2 linked regions of the Homo sapiens genome follow. The protein of the gene in region 1 interacts with the protein of each later gene in a biochemical or structural test. Each region holds a gene or a part of one and is shown in the gene's direction. Other genes may lie near its edges. The genes, in order: RPS6KB1 and MXI1.

What was found.
Region 2: of the proteins of RPS6KB1 (region 1) and MXI1, one has a biochemical effect on the other in vitro, tested with the Homo sapiens proteins (one study listed by BioGRID).

The regions. Positions count from the first base shown.
Region 1 is NC_000017.11:59,934,541-59,938,358, forward strand, and holds part of RPS6KB1 (ribosomal protein S6 kinase beta-1), read left to right. Parts: intron 1-652; coding exon 653-760; intron 761-1,674; coding exon 1,675-1,737; intron 1,738-1,923; coding exon 1,924-2,001; intron 2,002-3,037; coding exon of another isoform or gene 3,038-3,086; exon of another isoform or gene 3,087-3,234; intron 3,235-3,818. UniProt on the Homo sapiens protein: Serine/threonine-protein kinase that acts downstream of mTOR signaling in response to growth factors and nutrients to promote cell proliferation, cell growth and cell cycle progression.
Region 2 is NC_000010.11:110,210,368-110,214,185, forward strand, and holds part of MXI1 (max-interacting protein 1), read left to right. Parts: intron 1-2,500; exon of another isoform or gene 2,501-3,818. UniProt on the Homo sapiens protein: Transcriptional repressor. MXI1 binds with MAX to form a sequence-specific DNA-binding protein complex which recognizes the core sequence 5'-CAC[GA]TG-3'. MXI1 thus antagonizes MYC transcriptional activity by competing for MAX.

The DNA.
Region 1 (3,818 bases):
AAGCTGCATGTATTATTGGTCTGTGCTGAGTCACTATAGCAAGAGACCTGTCCTGTGCTTTCTGAACATGTTACCAGTGGAGTTTTCAAAGCCCAAAGATTTGTTATTAGCAGTTTAACACTAATAATGCTGTATGATTATATGGGATCCCATACTTTCCGAAACATTTTCTTTTAAATGATCTATGTCATGGCAGGCCTGTGAAATAGATGTTGAATAGATAATGCCCTTATTTTATAAATGGAGAAATTGAAGCATAAAATCACATAGCTCACTTATCACACAGAAAGTTAATGGTGGAAACACAGGCTTCCTTCCAGGACACTGCTACTTCCTCTGTCCTGTTGCTTAAAAACTGCACGTCTGCCGGCCACAGTGGTGCATGCCTGTAGCCTAAGCTACTCAGGAGGCTGAGGTGGGAGGATCATTTGAGCTAAGGATTATTAATAGAATCTAGCCTTGACAACATAGTTGAGACCCTGTCTGTAAAACAAAATAAAGGTCTTTAGCAGTTAGCCCATTTCACAGCATACATTTCTGATCTCCATGTATAACTAATTTAGGAAATGGATAATATTATTCAAAATTTGTTTCTTATATGCTAATATTTTTCTCTCCCTGCTAATATTTTTCACTTGTCTTCTACTCTTAGCCCCCATTCACTGGGGAGAATAGAAAGAAAACAATTGACAAAATCCTCAAATGTAAACTCAATTTGCCTCCCTACCTCACACAAGAAGCCAGAGATCTGCTTAAAAAGGTAAGGTTCTTAAATGGTCACTGACACTACAAGATTCAATGACTAGGATTTAACTAGATAGAATTTAATGTATATTTTGAATAAAGAGTCATATATAAATATTGAACAAAAAAGTCTTCAATTTTTGAAGGCGAAGTACAGATTTGTTTAAAGACTTTCTTTTCATATTCTTTTTTTAAATTTTTTTTTTTTGAGACAGGGTCTTGCCCTGTCACCCAGGCTAGAGTGCAGTGGTGCGATCTTGGCTCACTGCAACCTCAGTCTCCCAGGTTCAAGCGATTCTTCCGCCTCAGCCTCTCAAGTAGCTGGGATTACAGGCACCCGCCACCACGCCCGGCTAATTTTTGTATTTTTAGTAGAGACAGGGTTTCACCGTGTTGGTCAGTCTGGTCTGGAACTCCTGACCTCAGGTGATCCACCTGCCCTGGCCTCCCAAAGTGCTAAGTGCTGGGATTACAGACCCTTAAACAATATTAAGTAGTAATTAGTAAACTATATTTTCTTTTCTTTTCTTTTCTTTTTTTTCTGAGATGGAGTCTTGCTCTGTCGTCCAGGCTGGAGTGCAATGGCATGATCTTGGCTCTCACTGCAACCTCCACCTCCCAGGTTCAAGTGATTCTCCTGCCTCAGTCTCCCTAGTAGCTGGGATTACAGGTGTTCACCACCACGCCAGGCTAATTTTTGTATTTTTAGTAGAGAAGGGGTTTCACCATGTTGGCCAACCTCGAACTCCCAACCTCAGGTGATCCACCTGCCTCAGCCTCCCAAAGTGCTGGGATTACAGGCATGAGCCACTGTGCCTGGCCAATAAACTATATTTTCTCAAGCCAAAGTAGACAAGCACAGTCTAAAAAGGAAAAAAAAAAATCAGTTTGACTAAGGTTCTTTATCCAAGCTTTTTTTCCTCTTTAAAGCTGCTGAAAAGAAATGCTGCTTCTCGTCTGGGAGCTGGTCCTGGGGACGCTGGAGAAGTTCAAGTAGGGATTGGCATCTTTGGTGTTTTGTGGGGAAGATAATGCTAGTTTTATGTATTTCTGAGGGTTATATGTAGTTGCTTATAAGTTTAGCTTATTTTGTGACTTGTAACTTCAAAAAGGTGATTAATTTATCAATCCAGCAAAGTCTAGTCCCCTCAACTTTTCTTCCTGCTTTTTTTTTCCTAGGCTCATCCATTCTTTAGACACATTAACTGGGAAGAACTTCTGGCTCGAAAGGTGGAGCCCCCCTTTAAACCTCTGTTGGTAAGTATACATGAAAGTGTATAATTGGGTGCAGTGGCTCACGCCTGTAATCCCCAAACTTTAAAGGGCCAAGGTGGGAGGATTGTTTGAGGCCAGGAGTTCAAGACCAGCATGGGCAACATAACAAGACTCCATATCTACAAAACATTTAAAAGTTAGCTGGGTGTGGCGGCTTGTGCCTGTAAGTCCCAGCTACTTGCAAGGCTGAGGCAGGAGGATCGCTTGATATTTTTTTAGAATAAGAAAAATCTCAGAGCAGACAGAAACATTATTTTTATTAGCAGTTCAAAGATCTCTGGTCTATCCTCTCCAGCATCTTTATTTTATTTTATTTTGAGATGGGGTCTCACTCTGTCACCCAGGATGGAGTGCAGCAGCACGATCACAGTTCAATGCAGCCTTGACCTCCCCAGGCTCAGGTGATTCTCCCACCTCAGCTTCCCAAATAGCTACGACTACAGACACGTGTCACCATGCCTAGCTAATTTTTTTGTATTTTTTATAGAAATAGGGTTTTGCCATGTCACCCAGACTGGTCTTGAACTCCTGGGCTCAAGTGATCCACCCACCTCAGCCTCTCAAAGTGCTGGGATTACAGGTGTGAGCTTCTGCACCCAGCCAAGCATCTTTTATTTTTGTACTATCTTGTAAAGAACTAAACCCAGTGGCAATTGACTGTATTAGCTATTTTTAAGTCAGTTACCTAAGACAAATATTTCAGGTAGTTGGGACTTTCCTTTTTTTGGTTTGTTTTATTTTGCTTAATTTAACCATTTTAAATATGATTCTCTGGGAATTTTTTCTTCAAAGTATAGAATATGTGTGCATTCGTTTGCTAGGCTTGCTGCAACAAAGTACCACAAACCGGGTGGCTTAGACAACAGAAATTTATTATCTCATAGATCTGGAGACTAGAAGTTCTAGATCACATTGTTAGAGTTGGTTTCTTTGACTACTGTGAGAAACTGTATGTTCCATGCCTCTCCCCTGGCTTCTGGTGGTTTGCTGGTAATCTTTGTCATTCTTTGGCTTGTAGGTGCATCACCCGGATCTCTGCCTTCATGTTCACATGGTGTTCTACCTGTGTGCATATCTGTGGCCAAATTTCCCCTTTTTATAAGGATACCAGGCATATTGGATTAGGGTTCCTCTCTACTCCAGTAGGACCTCATCTTCACTAATTACATCTGCAATAACCCTTTCCAAATAAGGTCACATTCTGAGGAACTAGAGGTTAGAATTTCAATGTACGAAATTTTTTGGGGGTGGGTAAGGCACACGATTCAACCCATAACAATATGTTTGTGAGTAAATCAGTTAGTGTGTTAGTTATTGTCCTTCTCCCACCTCAGAATCTGAGAAAATACAGTTTCTTTTTCCATTCCTTAGGATGTAGTTGGAGAAGGAGGAGGATGATGATGGTGATTATTTTTTGGTCATGGAGCATAATGTCCCCACTTTAAAAAACAACAAACAATTGTAAGGAAGTTAACTGTCATATACCTACTGCCCAGCTTAAAAAATGATTAGGTCATCTTGTTTAAACATAACTGCCATCCCATCATCACACCTCAGAAGTTGACAGTTTCCTTAGTTGTTTTTTTTTTTTTTTCCTTTTTCTTTTCTTTCTTTTTTTTTTTTTTGGGGGGGGGATAGGGTCTTTCTCTGTTGCCCAGGCTGGAGTGCAGTGGCATGATAGTGGCTCATGGCAGCCTCAACCTCCCAGGCTCAAGGGCTCCTCCCGTATAGCTGGGGCCACAGGGATGCATCACCACATCCAGCTAATTTTTAAATTTTTTCTAGAGATGAGGTCTCCC
Region 2 (3,818 bases), on another chromosome or scaffold:
GCGGGAGTATTTTTAGCTCTCTTGCTTCTTTTCGCCGCTGCTGTTTGGCTCTAAATGACGTGATGCCAACGGCCCCCAGATTTCCCCGAGAGCTTGGGGCGCCGCGCCGTGCCCAGTTTGGCTGCAGAGACCCCGCTCCAGGCCCTCGCCCCGTCCCCAACAGCTCGAACAGGCTGGGGTGACCTCCGGCAAACTCCGTGCGACCATCCGCCAGGCCCTCTGTTATCCCCCTTGCAAAGAGAAGCGGTCCACGGGGGCCACTTTATCCCACCCCCTCTCCTCCCCTCCTCCTGCCCGGTCTAGGTCTCTGGGTACGGAAAACGGCGGGCCCTACATCTGCCTCGTTTTATGGGGGGCGCTTCTTCGCGCTGGCGGCGCTCGTCGTTGTTTTCTGCTCGCTGCACACAATGCCCGCGCGTCACGGCAATCCGCGTGTGCACAGCAATAACGCGAGTCGGGGGGCGGGTCGTGCGTGCGCCCGGCTCGGGCACTGCGGGTCGCTCGGCGCGCGCGGGGCTTGTTTTGCTCCAGAGCTCTGCTTTCCGAAACGCTTACATCATTCAGTCGTTGGGGGAGGGAGAGGGATCTGGGCGTTCCGATAGGATTCCAGCATCTACCGGGTCCCTGGTTTCTGGAAGGAAGCAGGGACCCTAGCTTTTTAGTAGTTATTATTGGGGGTGGGGTTGGGTAGTTTGTTGTGTACGTCTTTTTTTTTTTTTTTTTCGGTCACTACTGCAAAAGGGCATCGTTGGCCGACTCAGGTGCACAACCTCCCCGCCTTCATTTCAGCGAGTTCCCCTATAATCACTTGATCTCGGTTTCTCCGCCTTCTCCTCCTCCCCCTCCCAGCTAGAGACACATGGTTTCCACATGGAGACAAACTTCTTTCCTCCGACTGGACTTGACCTAGCTGCGTCGTTCAGCCAATCGGCAGCTCCAGCCTCTTCTGACGTCACGCGTTGCTGGGGCCGGAGGCTGGGTGGGGGGTGGAGCCAGGCTGCAAGCCAGGAAATCTCTGGGAGCTGTAGTGCGGCCAGCTGGTCCAGTCTCTTCTTAAAGGGACGCTCTTCTGTCCGGAGATGAGTGTCGGGCCCCGATTCTCCATTTCGGGTTCGGTGAGACCTTTCTGAGATGCATGGTGGACCCTGGTCACGAGTTAACACGTTCCGTTTTTACTGCTGTTTGCGAAGTACTTACTTGGCAGGAGCTTGCCTTATTTTCCATCGTAGCCAGAACTGCTTTTCGTTCCCTTGTTGAGGTTTCCGTACTGGTAGTGTTCACCAAGTTGTGGCCACATGGCTGAATTACTTCCAGTGGAGAGGTTGAGTTTTCTTGGAGGAGGGGTTCAAATTAAGTCACATTGTTGACTGTCTGCTGTGTGCAAGGCAGGGGGGATTCCCTAGGAAAGGCAGGTACATTCTCCCAAAACTCCAACTGATGTGAATCTCTACGGATCACAAATTGAAGGCCTCCAGAAATATTAATCATGAAGGCTGTGATCCTATTACCACAAATTCAGAAATTATATGTAAATAATCTCTGACATCATCACCTATATGCATTTTGAGTCCAGTGGAAGGGTGGGAATTAAGGACTGACTAATAAGTAGAAAAAGATCTTGGAAAAGGTTAAAACTAAAAGAGAAGAACAGATCCATAAAGGGATGTTATGTGCATAAGAGCCGACTGGCAGGTAAGTGAAACAAGCTGTGAGAGCAGGTAAGGTCTGGAGGAGAGAAATGGGCTTCCTAGTGTCTGGAGGAGGTTGCTTTGGAGGCAACACTTAAGATAGGGAAGGACGATCAGATGAGAGTAGAAAGCCATAAGGCTCCTTGGAGTGGATCACCTGGGTTTGAGGGTGGGGTGCTTTCCTAGGGGCACGGACAGCCCAAGAAACAGCCTGTTCCTCCTGGTAGAGGAAGCTGCTGTTGTGTGGTGTCATTTGGCCCCACCCTGCCTTCTGACTTAATCTCCTCTTCCTTGCCCTGAAACCTCTGTGTCTGTACAGCAGATCCACCAGCAAGCAGGCTTCACAGTCGAACCTCTGTGCTCGACTTAGACTCTTCCACTGTCTAGAATGCTTTCATTCTCTTACTCCCCTAGGGATATCTGTATCCTACCTTCTCTTCAAGACTTAGATCAGTTTCCACCTCCTCCAGGAAGCTTCCCCTAGCTATTTCAGCCCATTTGGCTCTATTTGTTAAGTCATTGTACTTGAGAGAATGAAACCTTTGCAGTCACATGGAGCAGGGCCCAGCTTGCTACTCTACTGCTTACTGGCTTTGTGACTTTGGACACAACTTACTTAGCCTGAGGTTCCATTTCCTTTTTGCAAAATGGGGATAACAATAGTATGACCCTCATATCATTGTCAAACAACTCAATGAGGCACTGCACTTAAATATTTAACGTACCTGAGATATAATAGGTGCTCAATAAATAGCAACTTCTCTGAGCTTTGATAATCAGTACCATGCACTTCTCTACTTGCTTCCTGTGTGTTAGCTTTACCTTTACAAGGAGTTTATTAGTAACTTAAGAGAAAAGATCACTTACAGTATTCAATGCATGTTACCCATTGCATATAGCACACCACTGGGCATACAGTAGTAGATCCTTAATATAAATGTTTTGATTGGTTAGATTTGTCATTTACTGCTAGCTATGGCACGAGGATCAGGTTTGGAGGCCAGGGGACACGTGACAGCCTTTCCGAAGATTTGGAGACGAGTCAGAAATACTGATCTCCAACTCCCTTGGGTGGTGAGACCAATCCCTGCAAGAAGATGATAGTTCAGACCTGAAGAGCTGAGACTGCATCCTGTGAACAGCTGTGACCCTGAGAAACAAATAAGAAAGAAGGAGACTAGAGTGACTTCTGCTGAAATCGAGGGCTTTGATGGCAACTAATGTTCAAGCTGGTCACGTTTTTGCATGGCAGCAATCTTATGAATTCATACATTCTTCAAATGTACATTGAATGTCTACTATGTGCAGATGCTTCTTTCTGAAAACTCTGTAGGTTGAAGTATGGTGGGGGTGGAGTAGGGTATTTGTCTTTAGTGGAGTTATGTGAAGAGCATTCTTAAATCAGGCCCTATTTCCTCTGCATCCCAAATTATGTTCCCCAGATTCAACTTATTTTTTCCAGTTTTAAATATGATCTCTGCTGACTGGTAAATACCAGAAGAAGGCTTTTTTGAGGATATTGTTACGGCTTTCAGAATCACGGAGCTCCCAAGGACTGTGTGTCCTGGAAAGGAGATCCAGGGAAAGGGGACAGGGCCTTGGAAGTTAGAGAAGTTGAATTGAGCCATTCCTGGTTTGGGAGCAAAAAGGAGGCTCCATTAGCTACCAAGGCAAAACAGTAGCTGCTCATCCATCTCTCATCTCTGATGGAAACAGTCTCCCACTGACACATCCAGAAATGGGGATTCATCTGGAGATGCCTGGGCAAAAGTCTAGAGGTGAAACTGAGGAAAATGAAGAGGGTGCTGGCGTGCAGCAGCAGCAACTAATTGTATGGCATAATATCAATAATGGCTACAATTTATTGAACACTGACTATATTCCAAGTATGGGGCTATGCATTCATTATCTCCCCTGATCTTCACAACAACCTTCTGATGGATGCAATTTTATTACCCTCTTTTACGGAGGAGGGAACTGAGGAGCAGGGATGCCAGGTAATTTGCCCAAAGGATATATAGCTAGTAAGTCGCGGAGCTGAGTTTTGAACTTAGGCCTCTGATTCCAGAGCCTGTGCTCTTAACCATATACACATGTACTCATTTCACAGCCAAGGAATGAAGTCCAGAG